7 linked regions of the Homo sapiens genome follow. The protein of the gene in region 4 purifies or fractionates together with the protein of the main gene of each other region. This does not show direct contact. Each region holds a gene or a part of one and is shown on either strand. Other genes may lie near its edges. The genes, in order: SMPD4, PDS5A, ZYG11B, FOXE1, PBX1, CDC27 and DACH1.

Region 1 (3,500 bases), on a different chromosome or scaffold from region 4:
GGCTGAGGAGGGAGAATGGCCTGGGCCCACGAGTTGAGGCTATAGTGACAAATGATCGTACCAACTTCACTCCACCCTGGGGTGACAGAGCAAGACCCTGTTTCTAAAAAATTAAGAAATTCCCAGCCTGGGCAACATGGCAAAACCCTGTCTCCACAAAAAAATACAAAAATTAGCCAGGTGTGGTGATGCCTCCCTGTAGTCCCAGATACTTGGGGGGTTGAGACAGGAGGATCACTTGAGCCCAGGAGGTTGAGGTTGCTGTGAGCAGAGATCGTACCACTGCACTCCAGCCTGGGGTAAGAGAACAAGACCCTGTCTGCAAATAAAATCAATTTGAAAAAATAGGAGAATCAAAAGTGGATGTTAATACTACTGATAATTACATAGTCTCCATACATCTTCCCGGTAAATTCTCGTTATCAATTTTTTTTTGAGACAGGATCGTACCCTATCGCCTAGGCTGGAGTGCAATGATGCAATCACAGCTCACTGCAACCTCAACCTCCTAGACTTAGGCCTCCCAAGTAGCTGGGACCAACACCACCACGCCTGGCTGATGTTTTTCTTTTTAGTAGAAACAAGGTCATGCTATGTTGCCCAGGCACTATTAATTTTTTTTTTTTTTTTTTTGGTTGAGATACGGTCTCACTCTGTAGCCCAGGCTGGAGTACAGGGGCATGATCTTGGCTCACTGCTACCTCCGCCTCCTGGGTGCAAGCAATCCTCCCACCTCAGCCTCTCAAGTAGCTGGGATTACAGGCGCACACCACCACACCTGGTTATTTTTAAATTTTTGGTAGAGATGGGATTTTGCTATGTTGCCTGAGCTGGTCTCACACTCCTGAGCTCCAGTGATCCGCCCACCTCAGCCTCTCAAAGTCCTGGAATTACAGGCATGAGCCACCATGCCCAGCCTCATTACTATTTAACCTGGGCACAAAGTAATTATTTTACAATGGAAAAACCTGACCGGCACCTTTTTAACCCAGTGATAAAAGGGCACCTGGCAAGGACCAGGTGTCCCACTACGGTGCTCCTCCCAACAAAGCCCATGCTGGGCCTAGTCACCAGCAAATACCACACAGCCTAAGGGGCGGCCGCATGCTCTGGAGGGGTCAAGGTCAGGAAAGACAGAAAGGCAAGGGACCATTCCTGACTGAAGGGGACTAGAAATATCACTATATACAGTGGGTGAGCCTGTGAAACATCACTGCACACAGTGTGAGGCCTGGTGGCAATACTAACTTCCTGGTGTGGTTACAGGCACTGTGACTATATAGGATAATGCATTCGCTTCTAGGAAATACACTGAAATATTAAGAGGTCAAGGGATGCCATATCCTGTAGCTTACTCATATTGGCTTAGAGAAAAAAAAACACATACAATAGAGGTGGAAACCAACACATGCAGCAAAGTATTAACAGTTTGGAAATCTGGGTGAAGATCTATGAAAGTTTCTTTTTTTTTTTTTTCCCTGAGACAGGATCTTGTTCTGTTACCCCAGGCTAAAGTGCAGTGGCACGCTCACAGCTCATTGCTCCTGGGCACAAGTGATCCTCCCACCTCAGCCTCCTGAGTAGCTGGGACCATAGTTGCACATCACCATACTTGGCTAATTTTTTTTTTGTAGAAATGAGGTCTCCCGACGTTGCCCACACTGGTCTCGAATTCCTGGCCTCAAGTGATCCTCCCGCCTTGGCCTCCCAAAGTGTTGGGATTACAGGCGTGAGCCACTGTGCTCAGCCTGCAAGTTATTTTTATTATGCGTGGAAACTTATCTGTAAATCTGAAGTTATTTCAAAATAAAAAGTTAGGTGTGGTGACTTGCAACTGTAATTCCAGCTACTTGGGAAGCTGAGGCGGGAAGATTGCTGAGGCCAGGAGTTCAAGACCAGCCTGGGCAACACAGCGAGGCATCCCCATATCTCCGCAAAAAAAAAAAAAAAAGTTAAATTAGCTGGCTGTAGTGATGCATGCCTATAGTCACTGATGTGACAGGCTGGCTTGAGTGATGATTGTGCCACCAAGTGATGATTATGACACTGCACTCCAGCCTGTGTGACAGAGTAAGACCGTCTTTAAAAATACATAATGGCTAGGCCAGGAGCGGCGGCTCACACCTGTAATCCCAGCACTTTAGGGGGTCGAGGCAGGCAGATCACTTGTGGTAAGGAGTTCAAGATCAGTCTGCTCAACATGGTGAAACCCTGTCTCTACTAAAGATACAAAAATTAGCTGGGTGTGGTGACAGGCACCTGTAGTCCCAGCTACTTGGGACTGAGCCAGGAGAATCACTTGAAGCAGAGACAGCGCCACTGCACTCCAGCCTGGGCAACAGAGTAAGACCCTGTCAAAAAAAAAAAAAAAAGCACACAATGGACCAGTGTAGTGGTTCATGCCTGTAATCTCTGAACTTTGGGAGGCTAAGGCAGGAGGATCGCTCGAGCCCAGGAGTTCTAGAGCAGCCTGGGCAACATAGCAAGACCCATCTTACAAAAAAATAAAATAAAAGCTAGGTGTGGGGGTGCATGCTTATAGTACTAGCTACTTGGGAGGTTGAAGTGGGAGGATCACTTGAGCTCAGGAGGTCAATGTTGCAGTGAGTTGTGATCACAACACTGCACTCCAGGCTGAGCAACCCAGCCAGGCCCTGTCTCAAAAAAAAAAAAATGCTGGGTGCAGTAGCTCACACCTGTAATCCCAGCACTTTGTCTGAGGCCAAGGTGGACGGATTGCCTGAGGTCAGGAGTTTGAGGCCAGCCTGGCCAACATGGTGAAACCCCGTTACTACTAAAAATACAAAAATTAGTCGGGCATGCTGACCTGTGCCTGTAATCCCAGCTACTTGCGAGGCTGAGGTGGGAGAATCACTTGAACCCAGGAGATGGAGGTTGCAGTGAGCCAAGATCATGCCACTGCACCACTCCAGCATGGGCGACAGAGTGAGACTCCATCTCCAAACACAAAATAAAATAAAATAAAATAAAATAAATAAATAAACCCAAACCATATATATATAATTTCTTTTCTTTTTTTTTTTTGTGTGTGTGTACAGTGGTGCAATCTCAGCTCACCACAACCTCCGCCTCCCGGGTTCAAGCAATTCTCCCGCCTCAACCTCCTGAGTAGCTGGGATTACAGGTGTGCACCACCATGCCCAGCTAATTTTTGTATTTTTAGTAGACAAGGTTTCACCATGTTGGCTAGGCTGGTCTCGAATTCCTGACCTCAGGCGATCCCTCCACCTTGGCCTCCCAAAGTGCTGGGATTACAGGCATCAGTCACCACTCCCAGCCTACGTATATAATTTCTAATAGAAAAAATTAAAACAACCCAAAAAGTTAAAACAAGCAAAAAAACCAGGCATCAAAAACTGCTTGGCAGCTGAATTCTGCATCTAAGAGGGTGTGAATCTGCCTCACCTCCGAGTCCTCCACAGGATCAGCAACATTTCAGGGTCACTGATCACTGCCGCTACCTGGGCAGCGTCTCCTCC
Region 2 (3,500 bases), on a different chromosome or scaffold from region 4:
CGTGCACCACCATGCCCAACTAATATTTTTGTATTTTTAGTAGAGATGGGGTTTCACCATGTTGGCCAGGCTGGTCTCGAACTCCTAACCTCAAATTATCTGCCTGCCCTGGCCTCCCAAAATGCTGGGATTACAGGGGTTAGCCTCCACGTCCGGCCTAAAAATGCAGTCTTAATCTAATAATGCAGGAACACTTGAAGAAGCCACAATGGCAAACAGTCAAATTCCTAACTCAAAATTCTCTCTCTTTTTTAAGACAGAATCTCACTACATTGCCCAGGATGGTCAAGCTTCTAGGCTGAAAAGATCCTTCCATCTTCAGATCAGAATTCTTAATGACATCACTCATTTACTTTGTGTATTTTTGACAAAAATTACATATACGATGGTGTACAACATAATATATGTATATATTGTAACATTTACTTTAAAAAAAAAATCTATTAAAGTGAAATGACCACACATCCTGGTTGGCCTGGGACAGTTTGATTATGCTATTTAAGTAAAAATATCAATAGTGATCCCTTTCAGTCTGAAAATAATCCAGTTGGACCATTAATCATATGGCCATCTTACACAGAGAAGATCTGAATATGTTCACCCAACAAAGAATCAGTATTCAGTTATTAGGCTTAATATTTAGTCTGGAAGGATAAAGCACCAGTAGTTTTAGACACTAGCCACAGGTATTTTGACGTGGTCATTTATTTGAACACCTGAAACCATCCTACTACTGACCTGGCTGCCAAACAAGCCTACACATATAAGAATAACCTGAACATAAATCGTAACATTTTGTCTATAAATATTTACCTGAGGTTCTTGATTCAACTATAGAAGCAGCAACAATCCAATCAATAACAACTAATTAGATAAGATGAAGTAATTTTACGAAATCCTTAGAAAATACAGCAGTTATTTGAAAAGTAACTTACTTTACAGCATTTGGATCCAAACTAGCATATAAGTAATATAAGCATTTCATTCTCTCTTCTGTTTCCAGGTTGTGGGGGACAAGATACTGAGCAAAGATTTTCTCTACCAACAGTCTAGGAAATAACAACAACAAAAAAAACCTAAGTGACACAATTATTCCATTTTTAAGAAGCAATTTTTTTTTTTTTTTTTGGAGACAGGGTCTTGCTCTGTCACCCAGGCTGGAGTACAGTGGTGCAAACTCGGCTCAATGCAACCTCTGTCTCGCAGGTTCAAGCGATTCTCCCACCTCAGCCTCTCCAGTAGCTAGGACTACAGGCGCGTGCCACCATGCCCAGCTAATTTTTATATTTTTTGTAGAGACAAGGTGTCCCTATGTTGCCAAGGCTGATCTGGAACTCCTGAGCTCAGGCAATCCGCCTGCCTTAGCGTCCTGAAGTGCTGGGATTACGACGGGCATGAGGCACCACACCCAGCCAACATTTTAAGTTTTAACCATCTTATGCCAGGATACCATATCAAGATAATAGCTATGTGTGCACATACAATGGAAGATATCAGTTTATAATGACTTCCTTCTTGGAAAGCTTTCAGTACAGTTTAACTTTAGAGACACGGTTACTGTCTGTGGCTTTATAATTTGTCAGTATGAAACATTTGTTCTAGAAGGTTTAAATGTTATTCCTAAACACAGGGTGCTAGGCTGTTCCGCCTATTCTTCTTCAGCAGTCTAGAACAAAAGCAAATTCATTAACGCAACATATAAAGCTATGATCCGCGGTAGAGCTAATTCTCAAGAAACTCATTAATTTCCTCTGATTACAGTTCAGCCCATTTTCCATGTTGTCACATAGTTAAAAACAGGGGGACCCCCCTTCATATTACTTCCAGAAAATGTAGTTTTTCCTGTGTACATCTGATTATTGTTCTCTCCATGATCTAAATTCCTTACCAATATTGGAATATCCTTCTTGCTAGTACCTATTGCTTGTATCTTCTTGCTTCTATTATTTAATATCACTGGATTAAGAATATACAAGATCTCTTAATTAACAAATGAAATACATATCCAGTGATGCCAGAGAAGTTAGTTTAATTAAACAAAACAATGGAAACTATTCTGCACACACCAAGTATCATTTGTACGATCCAATATAGAATTATAAGTAATATTCAGAAAATGAAAACAACTTAGTAATTCCTCTATTGGTAGTGGTGTAAAAAGGAAAGTAACTAGCAGTTAACTCAATAGTGCTCTCTTGCCACACATTGGGCTAGGATGCTTTATATTCATTATTTTATTTAATCTACATGATAATCCTGTGGGAAAGGCACTATTATTTTTCCTTTTTATATAAAACTGAAGCGCACAAGACCTTAATGAACCTATGTAAGAATACACATCTAATAAAGGGCAGAGTGAACATTTGGTCTCTAACTCCAAAGTTCATGCCTATTTCATATTATAAGGCTACCTTATAATCGTGGACAGTCTTGTTTAAACACAGTACATAAAAATATGTAAAAAGCTATCTCTAAACTTAGAAATAAATGATTAATCAAGTTGAATAAACTTAATTTTATTTATGAAGTAAATACATAAAAATAAGAAATTACTAAAATATTAAATAGACATTTTTTAAGTAAAAAGTAGTTTTACACTCAACCATTCTACCAACATATTAAACTCACTTGTCGTCAATGCTGTTCTGATAATAAATATGCAGAAGTTTGTCCTTTATCCAGCTGACTTTCTCTGCAGCTTCCTTTCCTGCTTCACCATGAAGACAGTATTTCTTATAAAGCTGAGCCAGACCCATCATAGCTTCTTTTCTTACTCGCCACTAAAAAGCATAAAATTTATTAGATGAGCAAGATAACAAAACTCTGTACTAATCTCCAAAGACTGCCTTGGCTTCATTAGGTTGTACAGTCTTATGTGTGCCTTTATAAACTGGCACACTATTTCTCTTCAAAAGAGGCTTTACAAACAATTTTATTTTTTTTTTGAGACGGAGTCTCACTCTGTCGCCTAGGCTGGAGTGCAGTGGCAGGATCTTGGCTCACTGCAAGCTCCGCCTCCCAGGTTCACACCATTCTCCTGCCTCAGCCTCCCAAGTAGCTGGGACTACAGGCGCCCGCACGCCCGGCTAATTTTTTATTTTTAGTAGAGACGGGGTTTCACCCTGTTAGCCAGGATGGTCTCGATCTCCTGACCTCATGATCCGCCCGCCTCGGCCCCCCAAAGTGCTGGGATTACAGGCGTGAGCCACCGCGCCCAGCCTACAAACAATTTTGAATCTGTTCCTATTTAGAAATTTTCCAATGCAAATATTGCTAAATGATCTACTTTTTTCTTTTTAAAGAAATGGGGTTTCGTTACGTTGCCTAGGCTGGTCTCAAATTTCTGGGCTAAAGTGATCCTCCTGCCTTAGCATCCTGAGTACCTAGAACTACAGGTTACTGATTTTTTATTTCCCTTGAAAACTATTAATAACCTTATGGGAGAGTTCATTTGATTCTATTGAAAGAAAATTCACCAAGTTTTAGAAGTGATTATAATT
Region 3 (3,500 bases), on a different chromosome or scaffold from region 4:
CCAGTCTCAAACTCCTGACCTTAAGTGATCTGCCTGCCTCAGCCTCCCAAAGTGCTGGGGTTACAGGTGTGAGCCACCACACCCAGCCACATTAAAACATTTTAATACAAATAGAAGTGAATTCCATTTAAATATAAACAAAATAAGCCCACAAGGTAGGAACCTAAACTATCTGAGTTGGAGACAAAATATTCTAATATTCCCCAAATTACAGTGCATTTTAGAATAAATTATTCAGGGGCTGGGCGTGGTGGCTCACACCTGTAATCCCAGCAGTTTGGGAGGCCGAGGCGAGCAGATAACGAGGTCAGGAGATCGAGACCATCCTGGCTAACGTGGTGAAACCCCGTCTCTACTAAAAATACAAAAAAATTAGCCAGGCGTGGTGGCAGGCGCCTATAGTCCCAGCTACTTGGAAGGCTGAGGCAGGAGAATGGCGTGAAGTGGGAGGCGGAGCTTGCAGTGAGCCGAGATCATGCCACTGCACTCTAGCCTGGACGACAGCAAGACTCCGTCTCAAAAAAAAAATAAAATAAAATAAAATAAATTATTCAGGGCTGTCATTCCATAGAGTAAAACCTAAATAACTCTAATACCTAAAAGTAGTGACAAAAATAAATACTCATATGAAAATGCACTATTATTATTATTATTATTATTTTTTTTTCAGACAGAGTCTCACTCTGTCGCCCAGGCTGAAGTGCAGTGGTGCGATCTCGGCTCACTGTAACCTCCACCTCCCAGTTCAAGTGATTTTCCTGCCTCAGCCTCCCTAGTAGCTGAGAGTACAGATGTGTGCCACAACCCACAGCTAATTTTTTGTATTTTTAGTAGAGATGGGGTTTCACCATGTTAGCCAGGATGGTCTCGATCTCCTGACTTCGTGATCCACCCGCCTTGGCCTCCGAAAGTGCTGGGAATACAGGCGTGAGCCACCATGCCCAGCCAAAAATGCACTATTATTTACTTATTATGTTTTATTTTCTCCTACTGAGCTGTGAAAGGTCCATTCCTTGAGTTATGAGGAAAGGAACCTATAGATTAGAGACTGGGAATATGATGGGATCAACTGTTAAGAAATTTGGGAGTCCTCAGAACCTGTGGGTACAGTAAAAAGAAAACGACTTTAGGGCAGAGACAGTTTAATGTAGCTAAAGAGGCAGTTTTCGATTTATGAGTGAACAACTCTGCTTCTGGGTAATGTAGTAGGAAGGACCGGATAAGCCTCCAGGTGGGAGTTCAGGTGGGTACAAGGCAGTTTTCTCGGTCACATCCCATTCATTGAATTATTCTTCTTTATCTGACACAGAAGAGCTTTTACTGCATTGCCTTTTTGTGGTATGCAGTGAGTTTTCATCAAACAATACAAGAGAAGGAGCTGGGTGCGGTGGCTCATGCCTGTAATCCCAGCACTTTGAGAGGCCAAGGCGGGTGAGTTCGAGACCAGTCTGGCCAAAATTGTGAAACCCAGCCTCTACTAAAAATACAAAAATTAGCTGGGCATGGTGGCGTGTTCCTGTAGTCCCAGTTACTCGGGAGGCTGAGGTAGGAGAAATGCTTGAATCTGGGAGGTGTAGGTTGTGGTGAGCTGAGATCGTGTCACTGCACTCCAGCCTGGGCAACAGAGTGAGACTCCGTCTCCAAAAAAAAAAAAAAAACCCAAGCGAAAATCTCACTAAATGTTACTACTTCTGCTATAAGGATATTAGTAAAAACAACTCTCACATATCCTATATAAGGCCCTTTATAGTATGTCCCCTATTAAGGTCCAATAGAAGAAATTTAATTCATAGTTAACTTCTCATAAAAAATTCTCTCCCCTCCCCATCTCCCCTGACAAGGATATGGAATGTTTCCCTCTTATATGGAGAACCATGTCGCTTTTTACTTGCAGCAGAGCCACAAAAATCCCTATGCATGGCCTACAAGTCTACATTTGACTATTTTCCCTCTATCCTAGAATTTTTTTTTTTCTTTTTGAGACAGAGTCTCACTCTGTCACCCAGGCCAGAGTGCATGGTGCCATCACAGCTCACTGCAGCCTTGCTTTCTGGGCTCAGATGATGCTGCCACCTCAGCCTCCCAAGTAGCTGGGACTACAGGAGCACACCACAACACCTGGCTAATTTCTTTTACATCTTTTATAGAAACTAGGTTTCGCCATGTTGCCCAGGCTGGTCTCAAACTCCCGGGCTCAAGCGATCCACTCACCTCAACTTCAGAAAATGCTGGGATTATAGGGATGAGCCATTATGCCCGGCCCCTATAATTTTTGAAAAATTATTTTTCCTTACTTCTAATTAAAACTAAAAGTAGGCCAGGCACAGTGGCTCACACCTGTAAGCCCAGCACTTTGGGAGGCCGAGGTCGGTGGATCACCTGAGGTCAGGGGTTCAAGATCAGCCCAGCCAAAATGGTGAAACCCTGTCTCTACTAAAAATACGAAAATTAGCCAGGTGTGGTGGTGCAGGCCTATAGTCCCAGCTACTCTGGAGGTTGAGGCAAGAGAATCGCTTGAACCTGGGAGGTGGAGGGTGTGGTGAGCCGAGATCGCACCACTGCACTCCAGCCTGGGTGACAAAGTGAGACTCCATCTCAAAAAAAAAAAAAAAAAAAAAAAAAAAAAAAAAAAAAAAATATATATATATATATATATATATATATATATATATATACACATATATATACACACTTTACTATTAAAGTGGTTCTGTGTATTTCTTGTGTCAAATCATTTGTGGAATGAGTTTATATTAATAAATAATTAGGCCACGCTTGATGGCTGACGCCTGTAATGCCAGCACTTTGGGAGGAAGAGGCAGGCAGATCGTTCGAGCCTAGGAGTTTGACACCAGCCTGGCCAACATGATGAAACCCCATCTCTACAAAAAATACAAAAAAAAGCCAGGTATGGTGACGTGCACTTGTAGTCCTAGCTACAAGCTGAGGCAGGAGGATCATCTGAGCCTGGACGTCAAGGTTGCAGTGAGCTGTTACTATGCCACTGCACTCCAGCTCCAGTGATAGAGACAGACCTTGTCTCTAAATAAATAAATAAGAGTTACATCGTAGCTTTCAAAGAATAATATAGAACCTGATTCAAACACTTTGCTTCTTCAGAAACCATGGGTGCTGGCAGCGACATCTTGAACAACAGAATTTTGGGTGAATGAGAATTGGGCACCGGAATGTACCATAAACAGTGGATCTACTTAAGACCTTTTACTCAACAAATGGACTCACTGTAGTCTCCTAATCTTTAAATTCCTTGAGGTGAGAACAGTGTCTCATTCACCACTATTATTCAGTGTCTAGTTACACCATGCTCATTCTGAAAGAATACCTTAAGTTGGCCGGGCACAGTGGCTTATGCCTGTAATCCCAGCACTTTGGGAGGCTTAGGCGGGCGGATCACCTGAGGTCAGGAGTTTGAGACCAGCCTGGCCAACATGGTGAAACCCCGTCTCTACTAAAAAAAAATAATAATAATACAAAAATTA
Region 4 (3,934 bases):
AAGAAACAGTGGACAAATGAACGAATGTACTTCTCTCTGCCTTATAATGGAAAAGCAGATTTATGACTGGGCAGTAACAGCCATGAAATTACCAGCACGTCCTGCTCAAAAGTTCAATAAGTTATGATATAATTGCTGCCTGGAGCCAATCCTGGGACTTTAGGTTAGACGCTTGGCCATGAACTCTTTTCCGTTCCCTAGAACAGCGGCTAGGCTTTGGGTGGCTACTCAGAGGCCCTGGGTGGCCCACCATTGCTGCCAAATACGCAGGGCAGCATCCAAGATGATGGGGCCCTGAATGATAACCCGGGGGCGGTGGATAGAGTCCTGCAGCCCTCTAGTGTAACAGATGGGGGAGACTGAAGGTTCAGGTGATGGGACTGGAGTGCTGACGCACAGTTCAACTCGGAGCTAGGTCTCAAGTTCTCAGAGACAGGGAAAACCAGCCCAGGTCAACCAGAGCAGAGATTTCTCCAATTTAAAAAAGAAGAAAAGCCTATTTCTTTTGCAAATTTGTCCTCCTCACTTTAAGAAGAAAGGCGCTGCCGCAGCCTTTTATTGTAGTAACGCAGTTAAAGGCACTAGAGGACGAACCGCGTAAAAAGGCCCGAGTTCCGGCAGCACATGGAAGGCTGAAACTGATTCCCCACAATTTGGATCCTGGTCTCTGGTGTTGACACTACGCTGCCCTCTGGTTACCGCCAAGGACCCTCCCCGATAGAATACCAGAAAGCATCCCGTTTGAGGGCTTCGCTCCATCGAGGGTCCCTGTGCCAGTCCAAGGGCTCTGGCTGCCTCGCCCCACCTCCTCCCGTTTACAGAGTACACCGGGTGCCTACGCTGTGCGCGGGGAGACCGAGCCTCTGTGGCCTGCTCGGTCTTTTCCACGTGGGTCCCAGTTGAGTCCTCTCTCCATTCCTGTTCGTTCTCAGATTGCGGGGAACGTGTGAACAGCCGATGTGTCTATGAGTTTTCGTCCCTACGCTGGCTCACATGGCGGACACGAACCGATCTATCCCACCGGGATAAGCGGCAGCATGGCGAGCATGGTAGGCGCCTGCACTGGCCCCTCCGAGCTGCCCGCCAGGGTTGTAGCAGGCTCCCAGCGCTCCGAACTGGCCGGGCGACGTGCGCCCGTAGAAGTCCACCGTGGTCTCCACGCCGCCACTGCTGCCGCCCGCTGGGGGCGAAGCGGGTCCCGCCAGGCGGCCAGCAGCGGCAAAGATCGCACTGCCGGCGCCCTGCGGGTACGCGCCGTCGGGGCCCGCGTAGGCAGCCGCATAGGCGGAGGGGTTGGCCGGCCGGGCCCCGGTGCAGCCTGCGGGCTGGTAGCCGGTGGTGGTAGCGGGGGCGCCGGCGGAGGCAAAGGCGCAAGAGCCGCCGGGCCCCGACGGTGCGGGCCCCAGCTCTGGGCTGAGCGGCCGCTCAGGAACCAGGCCGAAGACGCGGCAAGGGCCGGGCGACGCCGCGGGGTAGTAGACTGGAGGCGGCGCGGCCAGCGACGGCGGCGCGTAGCCTGCATAGACGGCGCCCGGGTAGGGGGGGCGCGCGGCGGGCACCGCGCCTGGGAAGATGGCGGCGGCGGCGGCGGCGGCGGCGGCGGCGGCTGCGGCAGCCGCCGCGTCGTGCATGTAAGCCGGGTAGGTGGAGAGGTCCGAGCGCTTGAAGCGCTTGCGGCGGCGCAGGAAGCTGCCGCTCTCGAACATGTCCTCCGCGTTGGGGTCAAGCGCCCAGTAGTTGCCCTTACCCGGGCGGCCGGCCTCGCGCGGGATCTTGAGGAAGCAGTCGTTGAGTGTGAGGTTGTGGCGGATGCTGTTCTGCCACTTTTTGGGGTTGTCGCGGTAGAAGGGGAAGCGCTCGGTGATGAACTTGTAGATGCCGCCCAGCGTGAGGCGGCGCTCGGGCGCGTGCGCGATGGCCATGGCGATGAGCGCGATGTAGCTGTAGGGCGGCTTCCCGCGCTGCAGGGGGCGCTTGCGGCGCCGCCCGCCCGCCCCGCGGCCCGTGGCCTCCCCTGGGACCCCGGCCCCTGCTGCCGTCTCGCCGCGCTCTTCCTTCACGGTAGCCAGCACCTCCGGCTGCGGCGGCGGCGGCCCGCTCTCGGCAGTCATGGCGCGGGCGTCCCGCACCCCCGGGCTCTGGATCCCCGCGGCTGTCGGGGGGCGGGGGCGGGCCTGGCGTCCCCGGAACGGACGCTCGGCCCTTCTGCGGAGAGCTCAGGGGATCGTCGCGGGCTGGCCCCGAGAGCCCAGCGGCCCAGGCTGGCACGCGCTGGAGGCTCAGCGTCCGTGGTCTGGGGCTGGCGCGGTGCAGACAGAGGCTCGGGAGTGACCCGCTAGCCGACGGCTCAGCCCGCGTGGTGCTTCTCGAGGCGGGCAGCGGCGGTGGCCTCGTGACCGGGACTGGACTCTGGTCTCCGGCTGAAGGGTCCCTTGCGCGCTGGTGCCGGGCGGTCGAGGGGTCCGGAAGTGATCCCTGGGTTGGGGTGGCTGCAGCTGGTCTGTGGTGCCCGCTAGTTTAGGATTACTGCCTAGGTTGTGCGCGCAGAAGAGGCTTCGGGCTCGAAGGCCAGAGCGAGGGCAGTTAGTACTGGCGCTGGGCGATCTGGCGGGGGCCGCCCATGCCCTGCCCCCGAGGCCAAGGTGGCCGTAAGCGCCACGGGCAGAGAGGCGAGGCGGGGGCAGCGAGGTCGGGGCGCGGGCCCAGGCGGGGCGACCTGAGGCTGGTCCTCTCCACGGCGTGGGTCTCCAGCCCTGCGGACCGCTGGCGAGGCGCTCCCCTGCACACACCGGACCGGCTCCTCCCTCCGCCGGCTTCCCCTCCTTAAAGGGGCCACGAAGCGTGGGGCGGCACCGGTTCCCTGCCCGCCCCCCGACTGCCCGCCCCCCGGGGCCCGGGCGCACCTCCCCAGGTAGGAGCAGCTGTGGCGGCGCGGTAGGAGCCCCACAGCGTCAGGGCGGGGAGGGCGCTTGGAGATCCCCCGGGTCGGCCCCCTCCGCACCCCGATCGACTGAGGCCCGGAGAGTTCAGGAACCGGCTCGGGAGACCTCAGCGCCCGAACTCGGAGTTTTCGGACTTTTCAGGCCTCTGCCAAGGGCTTGGACTCGCAGGTGAAAGGACGGGCTCATCTCACTTTTTTGTCCTGAGAGGGTGAGAATTGGCCGAGAGGGCGCTTGGTTTTTGTGGGAATGGGGAGGGAGAAGTTCCAGGAGACTGGCTCCCCGGGCCTTTCAGGATGGTTTCCAAACCCCAATCGTGGCTGCCACAGCCACTCGGCACTCCAGTCCCCCCATCTTTCGAATGAGTATTCCTAGGCCCGAAAGGGAAGGTGACTTGCCATGGCCCCACTGCGGCTTCTCCGCTTAGCGGAGTCTCCAACCTGCGTCTCCTTTAGGACTGCGCTTCCCAACTGTGTGGTAGAGGTAGCCGCTTTCCCTTTTTGGGCCCCAGGTCCCTCGACTGTACCGGGGTCTGGATCTCTCAAGAGTCCTTGCGTGGTAGATATTTAGGGATAGGCCAATCACCACCCCCAATCATCCGTCTTTGAGAGGCCCAGGATCTGTCTCTATTTGATGGATAGTGGTGCACGGATTAAAGACGACGCAGGATAGGTAACCTCCTCCTCCAATCCCCCGGGACCAGGGTAGCTCTGAAGACCCCCAGAGGCAGCCAAGCAGCCCCTTCCCGCAGCGGGGAGTGAGGGCTGCGGGTAATGGGGGAGTGGGAAGAGAGCGGTGGCCGGGTGGGCGCGTCTCCGGGGGAAGGGGCGGGCAGTCGGGACACGTTTGCTTCATGGGTGTCCAATTTCTGAGTTCCTTTCCTGCTGTCCCTGAGCCGGAACTTGGTCCTAACCTGAGATCCTCGCGGCGCGGCCCCTCTGGCCCGGGTTCGTTCCCTGGCCATTCACTGGGAGATCCAGGGCCTGTCCTTGTCC
Region 5 (3,148 bases), on a different chromosome or scaffold from region 4:
GTGGCCTGAATAATTGCCATGTTAAGTTAATGCAAAAGATCAGAACAGGGCTACATTTGCACAGGCAGTTTCTCTCCGGGCCGTAGTTTTCACTGATGATCACCTTTCACAGCATTTTCCCCAACCAGCATTTCACTTAGTCTTCTCTATACCCAGCACCTCCCCCGGCACCCCCGGCAAGCCCACTATCACTTCCGACTTCCAACGTGGCATCCGTGAGATCTGTCCACATTAGGCGAAGCAGGAGAACACTGAGAGCAGCAGGATGGGTTTGGAAAGAGCATGCCTCTGGAAACACAGCTTCCTGGGAATTCACATGAGGCCAGTCCTACAGAGAGCAAGATGCACCCCAGGATTTCTTCATTTTCTAATAGATGTGGGAGTGCTCCATTTTCCCCGACAGCGAATTTCCCCTGAGAAACGATACTAGACCCTGGGTTTGCCCACCTTGTAACTCTTCCTTATCTCCTCCTTTTCATCCCTAATCCATCCTCCCTCTGGCATGGAATTGACGCCCGTGCAGTACATTTGCCAAGTGGCACCTTCTTTCAATTTATGTTTTATTTTGCTATGGTGGTGATTCTTTATTTGCTGGTTGTCTTTTCTCACACATCTTTCTCTCTGTCTCTCTCTTTCCTGCTCTTTGTTTTTCTGCCCAGAAAAACCTGACTTCGATACCAAAAAAGATGAAACTACAGAAACTCAAATTTAAAAAAAACTTTAAAAGAAACAAAAAAATACTCAACGATTCTTTCAGCTTTATTAACATTTTCCATTGTTTCTTGCGACTTGTGTCTCGTTCTTTGTAGTATTGATGATGAACATTTGATAATGAATGTTCTTGTATATTCAGATAAAGAAAAAAAAAACCAAAAAAGCGGTCTGAATTTAATAGTGTTTATAATAAAAATTTTAAAAATGACCCTCATAGCACGCAAAACAGGATGGGGAATTTCCCCTCTTCTTTCTGTGACAATGCGCATCATTCCTGCATTAGTTTTTAACACCAGACTACCTACATTCATCATTTCCCTCATTTTTCTTTTATTTTCTTGCATTTGTGAATTAGTTCAAGAATGCTAGAAAAGTGTCGAGTTGTGCACATCCATTTCTTGTTTCACAATGTTTAAAAGTGACAGTAATTCATTTTGTAAACTAAAAAAAAAAAAAAAAAGGTTGGAATAGTGAGCATAATAGGTACAACCTAACACATTATTATGTTTATTAACTTTGAGACCCAGAAATAAATTCTTTTCTTTTCTTGATTCTTGCTCTTAAAAATACAAAAAAAAAAATGTTTTGTTTTGTGTTATTTTTGGTTTGTTTATTGGGGGGCTTTTTTTAATTGTCAGGATTATGATCTTGCTGTTTTTCTTCAATATGTATACAAGGTGATGTGAAAAGATGACTTGGGCAGAGGAGTAAGAACAAGTAGGCTTGTTCTTCTACTTTGCTTCAGAATTCAGTTAATGCCAAAAGCGAAGATCAAGCCCATGTTGATGTCTCGTTGCTCACCTGCATTTCCAGAGAGTGTGACACTCATGCAGTCCCTGAGAAAAATAAAATCAGGGACATACTTCTCCTTTTAGCCTTTTAAAAATTCAAAAACGTTTAGTCCAAGGGAACTTTTTATGCTATCAGGAAAGGTTTTTGCTGTTTTTGATTCTGATTATCACAGCCAAGTACTTTGTTTTATTTCTCCCTAATTAATAACTACATTCCATGAGGCCTCTTCCAACCAAAGAGGCCTTTTCTTCCAGGAGAGTCCCGCAGGAGATGCTGGTATGATGGGCACCATTGGTTAAGTAAACTACATGCAGGAAGAAGTCCTTGGGGCCAGTCTGCCAGCTGAGTCCTGGTTTTGGATGAAGAGTTAATGAGATATTGGGCCAGGCTCAATGCTGTAGTTTTAATGCTAAGAGGTTACGTTTACTTCACAGAGTACACCTCTTAGTAACCTCTGACTTAGGCAGCTGCTTAAAGCAAATTGCAAAACTGGCTTGATTTGGAATGTTTTTATTAGAGGAAAAAAGAAAGCCATATTATCTGGAAAAAAATTCATTTTAAATACCATCATTCAACAAATTATGTTCAGAAAGTGGTCAGAACTTAAGCAAGAAAAGTAAAGAAAGAATGCAGAATTGTGGAGCAATGCTTTAGGAAATATTTCTACCTGAACACTTGTACTCTTGAAGTCACAACAAAATAATGATGAGCTTTTCACATCACCTTTATGGTTTCAATCCCTAGCTCAAAGCTTCCTGGAATCTTTTATTTTTTGTAAACTTTTTTTTCTTTTGTTAAAATAAATAAAACATTCAATGTTTTTCTCCTTTTCTCTCTTATTACTTCTTTCCTTTGGCATTTTCAATTTGAAATGCTTTCCTTTGGTTGTTGGTTTTATTCTCCCCCTACCCCTCCCCTTTTCTTATTATTCAGAATATAAACCTGCAAAGCTCTGCTCTGTTTTGGTTTTGAAAGTTTAAGCTTTTCTGCTTCTGTGAGAGCACAGGCTTCTGTCCCTTTTGATTCCAACTGAACTTTTGTGTTCTCTAATGATACTAACACGGTGTAGGTTTTACAGTCTCCTAATTTGTACTGGTAATGCATATTCCAAATAAATAGTTTCTTTTGTTGCAAAAAAAAATACTTGTATTTTGTGCACATTTCTTTTCTTACATGCTGGCAACTTCTCTTTCCCCAAACTAGGCCTGCATTAGTGTAGATTATGGTTTAAACTGTTGCCCTAATCACTGAAAAGTCTACATACTATGGTGGTGGGGCAGAGACCTTATGGACCACCTTCTTCACTCAGGAAATAAGAAGGAAGGAAGGAAGGATCATTTGTGGGTAAACAATAGCTGTATTACAGAGGGACAGAGCACCCCATCTTGTCTGCTTGCTACTGGCAGCCATCCACCAAGCACCAGTTCAGAGAAATGCCAGGAGTATTTTCCATAATAAATTCTAAGTTCCTAAGTCATGGCTGTTTGCCCAGTGATTCTCCTTTTCTTCTCTTTGTCTGCTGTGATCTGGTCATAAGAAAAATTGTGGTTCCCAAGAGATATTTCAGGGGAAGGAATCTAGGTTACAAATAATACCCAGTTGTAGGCTCTCAGGAGTGTGATAGATGTTACTCCCAACAGAT
Region 6 (3,500 bases), on a different chromosome or scaffold from region 4:
GTAGTAACGAGTCATTTTATTTTTATTTTTTTATATGAAGGAAAGTTTATTAAGGATTATTGACTTATGATCACAAGGTGAAGTCCCACAAGAGGCCATCTGCAAGCTGAGAAGCAGGAAAGCCAGTCCGAGTCCCTCATTTTTAAATACTGTGTTTTCATAGAGAAACCACGAAAAGAACTGATCAAATTCATCAACTTTAGAGTACTTATATAATTAATGTATATTTTTAAAATATACCCAAATTGAAACAATGGTTAATGGTCATAAATCAAGTAAAATATTAATGTCTTCCTTTATAATTTTTTTTTAGTACAACACCTCAGGTATTGAGCCCCACTATTACATCTCCCCCAAACGCACTGCCTCGAAGAAGTTCACGACTCTTTACTAGTGACAGCTCCACAACCAAGGTAATTTAAAGATTTCTGTATGTCACATTTACTTAATGCTTCGCCTGCTAACATTTCTGTTCATTGATGACTCCATTCCTAATAAGTTAACAAAGAGACTATTTCGAATTTTAAAATGTTTTAATTTAGAGGGCCATCTATGATTTTTGTGAAGTTAATTAGTCCTTTGGTAAATATTATATAATATTCTTTTTTAATTAAAAAATTTTTTTTCTCAAGTTAAAAATGACATAGGAATAATCTTGAAATGGCAAAATTATAGGAATGGACAACAGATCAGTGATTATTAGGAGTTAGGCCTCTAGGGAGGATGTTACTATTAAATCATGGCACAAAAGAATTGCATTGTGGTGGTACAACAGTCCTGTATCCTGATTGTGGTGGTTGATTACACAGATCCATTCACGTGATAAAATTTTATAGAACTATGCACACACATACACACACACGGGTTTATATAAAAACTGATGAAATCCATGTAAGGTCTTTAGCTGATAATATTGTACTAATTTCAGTTTCCTGGGTATGATGATATACTATGGTTATGTCACATGTTATCATTTGCAGAAGAGTGAGTCTAAAATTATTTGAAAATAAAAGTTAAAAAAAACTGGAGACCCGGCGGACGCAGTGGCTCACGCCTGTAATCCTAGCACTTTGGGAGGCCAAGGTGGGCCGATCACTTGAGCTTAGGAGTTTGAGACCAGCCTGGTCAACATAGCAAGACCCCATCTCTGAAAAAAAAAATTAGCTGGGATGGTAGTACTCTTTGATCCCAGCTGCTTGGGAGGCTGTGGTGGGAGAATCACTTGAGCCTGGGGAGGTCAAGGCTGTGGTGAGCTCTGATTACATCATTACACTCCAGCACGGGCAACAGAATAAGATCCTGTCCCAAAAACAAAACAAAGGCCGGGCACGGTGGCTCATGCCTGTAATCCCAGCACTTTGGGAGGCCAAGGCAGGCAGATCACCTAAGGTCAGGAGTTCGAGACCAGCCTGACCAACGTGGAGAAATCCAGTCTCTTCCAAAATAAAAATTAACCGGGCGTGGTGGCTCATGCCTGTAATCTCAGTTACGCGGGAGGCTGAAGCAGGAGAATCGCTTGAACCCGGGAGGCAGAGGTTGGGTTGCGGTGAGCTGAGAATTACATCTACTTATTTTCTTACTTTTAAATAATAAATGAGAGTTTGATATACTTTCACAAGAGGGCTACACTTAATGCTGACACACCTTAGTCACTATTAGTTAATGTAATTTATGTTCAGAATTACTGTGTTTAAAATTAAATGACTTTGAAGACCTTTGTTTTTATAAACTCTCTTCTGAAAAAAATATAGAATTAATCAAGATTGTACATTTATTTTATATCTAATACTGGAGAAAGGGCTGAGGAGAAATCTAAAATACATGAGTATAACAGGTGTGAAATTTCTTCCCTTTTACAGGAGAATAGCAAAAAATTAAAAATGAAGTTTCCACCTAAAATCCCAAACAGAAAAACAAAAAGTAAAACTAATAAAGGAGGAATAACTCAACCTAACATAAATGATAGCCTGGAAATTACAAAATTGGACTCTTCCATCATTTCAGAAGGGAAAATATCCACAATCACACCTCAGATTCAGGCCTTTAATCTACAAAAAGCAGCAGCAGGTCTGTTTTAAATGCTTAATATTATCTTTGTATTTTATTATGTACTTATTTTAAGTAAATTTCTTTATGTTCATTACAGTACCTTCATTGTTTTTTATATAGATGTTGGAATTTTTAATAGATTAGTTTGTAATTACCTTTTCTAGAGAAGCAGACTAGTTTATTGCGTTTTTTCCTTTGTTTACTATGTTGTTTTCTCCTAGAAGGTTTGATGAGCCTTCTTCGTGAAATGGGGAAAGGTTATTTAGCTTTGTGTTCATACAACTGCAAAGAAGCTATAAATATTTTGAGCCATCTACCTTCTCACCACTACAATACTGGTTGGGTACTGTGCCAAATTGGAAGGGCCTATTTTGAACTTTCAGAGTACATGCAAGTAAGTATAGAAAATGGTTATATATGCCTTTCTAGAGATAATTTCAATTTCATTAAAATAAATGCCCATGCTTAAGAAGGCTAGATCTAAAAGATCAGTATTTATTATGTAATGTCTATATATTTATTTTGTCAGTATTTATAATTTATAGATATAGTTCTTTCTTGTGTTAAGGAGTAATTTAAATTCTTTGCAACTTCTCGGAATAGGTTTATAGAGACCCAAGTCATCCAGACATTCTTACGTAGAGTGTGTCCTATTCAGTTGTGTCTGAAAATACATATTTATATTTACCATGTAATAGGATTTATTTATTTTTCTGCAATATACAGAGTTAATTACTGGGGTGAATTTTTGACATCGAATATGTTTTATAAGCTTGAAGAATGCTATAAAGAAAATTGTGCTGAATTGAGGACACAATGTCTTTAATACAAGGCTTTTTACTCTTTGGATTTTAATTAAATTTGTTGCTTAAGTTATCTGTCTATACCAGAAAAGGAGAGAATGATTAACCTAAAGCCAAAGAAAATTCTAATTCCCAATTTATATTACCCCTTAGTTCTTCCCAAAGCATTTTCTCCACCCCCAACTTAAAAAAAGAAACCTTTTAGAAACCTATATATTAATAAAATATCTCTAATATGGATTAAAGTTGATATGATTCGTTTTTTGCTTAATTTGCTTTCAGTTCATTTATTCAATATATATCTCTGTGCATATGATATCCTGGACTCTCTTCTAGACTCTGTATTACAGCTAGTCAGACAATTTCTTGCCTCTGTGGAGCTTACATTCTAGCAACAGACAGATTATAAGCCAATAAATGTATAAGAACAGGTAGCAATAAGTCATGAAGAAAAATGAAGCATGGTGAGGAAACTGGGAGACAATGAAGTATGGTGTTTTTGTTTTTATGTACTCAGAGGGAAGGTTACTCTTCCCTTCATGATCCATGCAAAGATCTAGGGGAAAGGTGTTCTTTCCCACAGGGAATACATACAGAGGATACCTATTCATATAATTTAATTTTGAATAGTACAGAACAGAGAGTTGA
Region 7 (3,500 bases), on a different chromosome or scaffold from region 4:
TAAGCTGTTTTTAATCACTGTCCTAATAACCATATAGCCTTGCATAATTATATCTAAAATATTTAAGTATAAACTACTTCTTTAACTCTAAAATTAATTCTTTTTTTCTGTTGTATTTCAGTAAAATAGGACCTGTTTATTGATGTATTGTTTCATGTTTTTATGTGCTACAAAAAGGTAAAATTAAAGCCAATTGTATTTTCCTAAGTTATTTGTCCTGTGGCCCTACATCCTACAGGTGTATATGTTATGTTTGCGTGTGTGTGTGTGAATGTATTCCTACACAACACATATACATGTATGTAAAGGCTTTTCTACCAAATGTACGACAATTATTTAAAGCATAGAGTACAAATGAGCTAATGCTAATACATATAAAAAATATCCACCACAGAGTTCTCTAAACTACTGATAAAAATTTTACACTTGTTGCACACACAAGAACATTCATCCTCATATAAAATGTGTGACAGGTATTATGAAAAATAAAAGTGTTCCAGGTTATTCTTTTAAAATCAAAAGGCACTATTTAAGTGTAAGTGCCTAACTCAAGAAGATAATATCATTTTGAATAATCAAATTAAATAAAAATCCTAAATTTGAAACATAAAATAGAAAGTAATACTGTTGAATGCATCAGTATATTTTAGCAGAACTATGATGGGTTCAAAGATTTGTTACACCTTAAGTGATTTACTTTGTTCATACATAAACAATATGTCTTTAAAATATAAGACTATGAATAAAACAGCCCATTTACTGTTGCTACTAATAAAATATCAGGATACAGTTTAAGATTTTAACAAAATACTCCATCTGCCTGATAAGTGAATGTAATACACTATTTCTTAGTTAACATATTCTAGAGATTTATTTTCATTGCCTTTACTGAAGAAATGACCAGTATCCCTTAAATGGAATTGATAAATATTTACTGCAAATGCTTCTGTATGTTTCCATAAAATATCTCCCTTTCAAGTAGTACACTTTCTTTCTTAAGATATATTTTGTTTGCCCTTGAAGAAAAATAAGGTTATTTTTTTCCTGTTGTAACTGGAAAGGCAATCTAATTATTTACAAACACTTGATACCATACAAATTCAAAGATCATTTAACACTGTGACTTTTTAATACTTCATGTTTACCACTCCATTCATATACGCTAAGGAAACAAAAACATTTCTCAATTATTCAATGTTACCAATCAACATCAACCAATGTACTATGTGGCCTATTGCAGTATTTGCTTCATGAAAATCATGCTTTAAAAGTATATCCATATTTTTTTTGTCAAAAATATAGGCTATCTTCAAAATCCACTTCAGGATTCTTAAAGATCTACTTATAGTCAAATCAAAGTATATTTATTTCTATTTTTCAAATCATAGAAAATATAATCACCACGTTGTACAACATTTTCTTCCTATCTAACTGAAATTTTGTAACCTTAGACCAACAGCTCTCCAGTCCCTGGTAACCACCATTCTACTCTCTGCATCTATGAGTTCAACTTTTTTAGATTCCACATGTAAGTGATATCATGCAGTATTTGTCTTTCTGTGCCTGGCTTATTTCACTTTTACTTCCTGCTAGAAAAATGTAATGTATTCCAGGTATTGTATTCAACCTGTACGGTACATTATTATAGATACTTCAGTTAAGCACTCTCTCTCTCTGCCTCTCTCTGCCTCTCTCTCTCTCTCTCTCTCTCTGTATCTCTCTCTCTGTGTGTCTCTCTCTCAGTATCAATCACTACTCTCTAAAACTTTTTTAAAAAGTAACTGGCTATTCAGTGTGTTGCTGTGCTTGTAGTTTACAACACTTCAATATACTTATAACAACAACAAAAAAAGACCAATTAAACAATGACATAGTGAGATTTCCAGTTTAATGAGTTGTCTTTGACAACTTCCAATCAAGTCACATACATTTAAATGTGCAGAAGAATCCCAGCTTGAAATCCTGGATCAATTCCAAGCCAATTTGGATCAGAAAGCAAAAGGACCACACCTTTAACACAATGCAGTCATTGGCAAATTTAATGTCCAATTTAGAAAGAATGAAAGATGATTTTTTTTAAATGGGTGAATTCGAATGCTTTTCTCTTATAAAGGAAATCTATGTCCGAATAAACCAATACATTTTAAATGCATTTGGTTCAAGGTCCTTGACTTTGGATCAAGTGGTGATTTGGGTCATTATATGTGATGTGACATATATTTTTTAATTGGACATTTATCTGCTATTCATTAAATTAATTTTAATTGTATCATTAATTTGAAAAACAATGACCTTTTTATTGATTGTCTAATAACTAATTTATAGTGGATTGAAAATTCTTTTCATTGTCATTTGTACATTTATATATAAAGCTAATCATTAGCTGCCTAAAACTAGCAACAATGGACACACTCTTAACAGATTCTCAGAAACCTCCTTAAAATAAATAGGTGTAACAAATAAAGTAATCCACCAGTAATCTAATAATAACTAATTAGTGGACCAAATATAAATATCTTATCCTTGGTATTCTTGTTTTCCAAAGCAATAATTTGGTAAACTAACTATACTATCCTAATGAAGTCATTCCTGTATGTGACATTTGCTAAAAAGCGAATATCAGCAAATAAAAGTTAGTTACAAGACAGCCACAGTAGCAAAAATTACTTTTTACTAGAAATATTTTTGGCAGATTGAGAAGAAGGAAACAAGAAATTTGAGCAAAATGTAGGTTTGCACAGAGCCTCTGCTGTGCCTGAGATGTACATATCTGTGCAGATCAGAGCCTTTGCTGTTACACTTATCTGAGCTCCATTAGGTGGGCTCTTAATTCATAGTTTTCTTCTTTAAAAATTTAATTATTGAACATAACAAACATAATAGAGAAGGGTCTCCTTAATGCAGTCCCAAAGCCTGAAAATATAAGTGTAGTCTTAGCTAGAATATTCAAACTACATATACTATATAAATATATTAATATACTACATATAATATGTAGTATTTAGACATACGTATGTACACACACACACACACACATGCATGCAGATATACATCTCTTAAACTGGCCAATCACAAAGCATTACCTCAGTAAGAAAATGGCACATGCTGACATATGCTAAGGTCATTCTATTTTTATAACAATTCAAACATAAAATGATAAAACTTTATCTTAATTACATTTTTAAATACCCAAGCCAATAATATCCATTTTTACATTTCCTGTTATTCTAAAGATATATAACTTAATGTGACTTTTTTTTTTTTTTTGGTGAACAAGCTGAAAAGGAAATACTTGAAAGATAAATTCAAACAAAGTTTAACTTTTTAAAAGAACCAAGTAACAAAAACCTTAAAATAAAAATGTTTAATGAAATCTAGATGACTCACCTGTACCTATTTAGAAGGCATAGTTCAAATTAATTTCTTCAGACAAGGATTCAAAGGGAGACAGTTTACAACCTGTGAGAGTTTAATTTCCCATTATATTTTGCAGTAGTTGT

The links.
Region 1: the proteins of FOXE1 (region 4) and SMPD4 purify together in Homo sapiens (affinity purification with mass spectrometry; one large-scale study listed by BioGRID and IntAct). This does not show direct contact.
Region 2: the proteins of FOXE1 (region 4) and PDS5A purify together in Homo sapiens (affinity purification with mass spectrometry; one large-scale study listed by BioGRID and IntAct). This does not show direct contact.
Region 3: the proteins of FOXE1 (region 4) and ZYG11B purify together in Homo sapiens (affinity purification with mass spectrometry; one large-scale study listed by BioGRID and IntAct). This does not show direct contact.
Region 5: the proteins of FOXE1 (region 4) and PBX1 purify together in Homo sapiens (affinity purification with mass spectrometry; one large-scale study listed by BioGRID and IntAct). This does not show direct contact.
Region 6: the proteins of FOXE1 (region 4) and CDC27 purify together in Homo sapiens (affinity purification with mass spectrometry; one large-scale study listed by BioGRID and IntAct). This does not show direct contact.
Region 7: the proteins of FOXE1 (region 4) and DACH1 purify together in Homo sapiens (affinity purification with mass spectrometry, with the first as the bait; one large-scale study listed by BioGRID). This does not show direct contact.

What each region holds. Positions count from the first base shown.
Region 1 is NC_000002.12:130,168,103-130,171,602, forward strand, and holds part of SMPD4 (sphingomyelin phosphodiesterase 4), read right to left. Parts: intron 1-3,500. UniProt on the Homo sapiens protein: Catalyzes the hydrolysis of membrane sphingomyelin to form phosphorylcholine and ceramide. It has a relevant role in the homeostasis of membrane sphingolipids, thereby influencing membrane integrity, and endoplasmic reticulum organization and function.
Region 2 is NC_000004.12:39,901,412-39,904,911, forward strand, and holds part of PDS5A (sister chromatid cohesion protein PDS5 homolog A), read right to left. Parts: intron 2,781-3,500; coding exon 2,629-2,780; intron 1,050-2,628; coding exon 936-1,049; intron 1-935. UniProt on the Homo sapiens protein: Probable regulator of sister chromatid cohesion in mitosis which may stabilize cohesin complex association with chromatin. May couple sister chromatid cohesion during mitosis to DNA replication.
Region 3 is NC_000001.11:52,816,953-52,820,452, reverse strand, and holds part of ZYG11B (protein zyg-11 homolog B), read right to left. Parts: intron 1-3,500. UniProt on the Homo sapiens protein: Serves as substrate adapter subunit in the E3 ubiquitin ligase complex ZYG11B-CUL2-Elongin BC. Acts to target substrates bearing N-terminal degrons for proteasomal degradation with the first four residues of substrates being the key recognition elements.
Region 4 is NC_000009.12:97,852,092-97,856,025, reverse strand, and holds the start of FOXE1 (forkhead box protein E1), read right to left. Parts: upstream 2,801-3,934; 5' UTR 2,112-2,800; coding exon 990-2,111; 3' UTR 1-989. UniProt on the Homo sapiens protein: Transcription factor that binds consensus sites on a variety of gene promoters and activate their transcription.
Region 5 is NC_000001.11:164,849,184-164,852,331, forward strand, and holds the end of PBX1 (pre-B-cell leukemia transcription factor 1), read left to right. Parts: 3' UTR 1-156; coding exon of another isoform or gene 157-219; 3' UTR 220-2,648; downstream 2,649-3,148. UniProt on the Homo sapiens protein: Transcription factor which binds the DNA sequence 5'-TGATTGAT-3' as part of a heterodimer with HOX proteins such as HOXA1, HOXA5, HOXB7 and HOXB8. Binds to the DNA sequence 5'-TGATTGAC-3' in complex with a nuclear factor which is not a class I HOX protein.
Region 6 is NC_000017.11:47,140,796-47,144,295, reverse strand, and holds part of CDC27 (cell division cycle protein 27 homolog), read left to right. Parts: intron 1-313; coding exon 314-413; intron 414-1,859; coding exon 1,860-2,067; intron 2,068-2,270; coding exon 2,271-2,443; intron 2,444-3,500. UniProt on the Homo sapiens protein: Component of the anaphase promoting complex/cyclosome (APC/C), a cell cycle-regulated E3 ubiquitin ligase that controls progression through mitosis and the G1 phase of the cell cycle.
Region 7 is NC_000013.11:71,857,205-71,860,704, forward strand, and holds part of DACH1 (dachshund homolog 1), read right to left. Parts: intron 1-3,500. UniProt on the Homo sapiens protein: Transcription factor that is involved in regulation of organogenesis. Seems to be a regulator of SIX1, SIX6 and probably SIX5.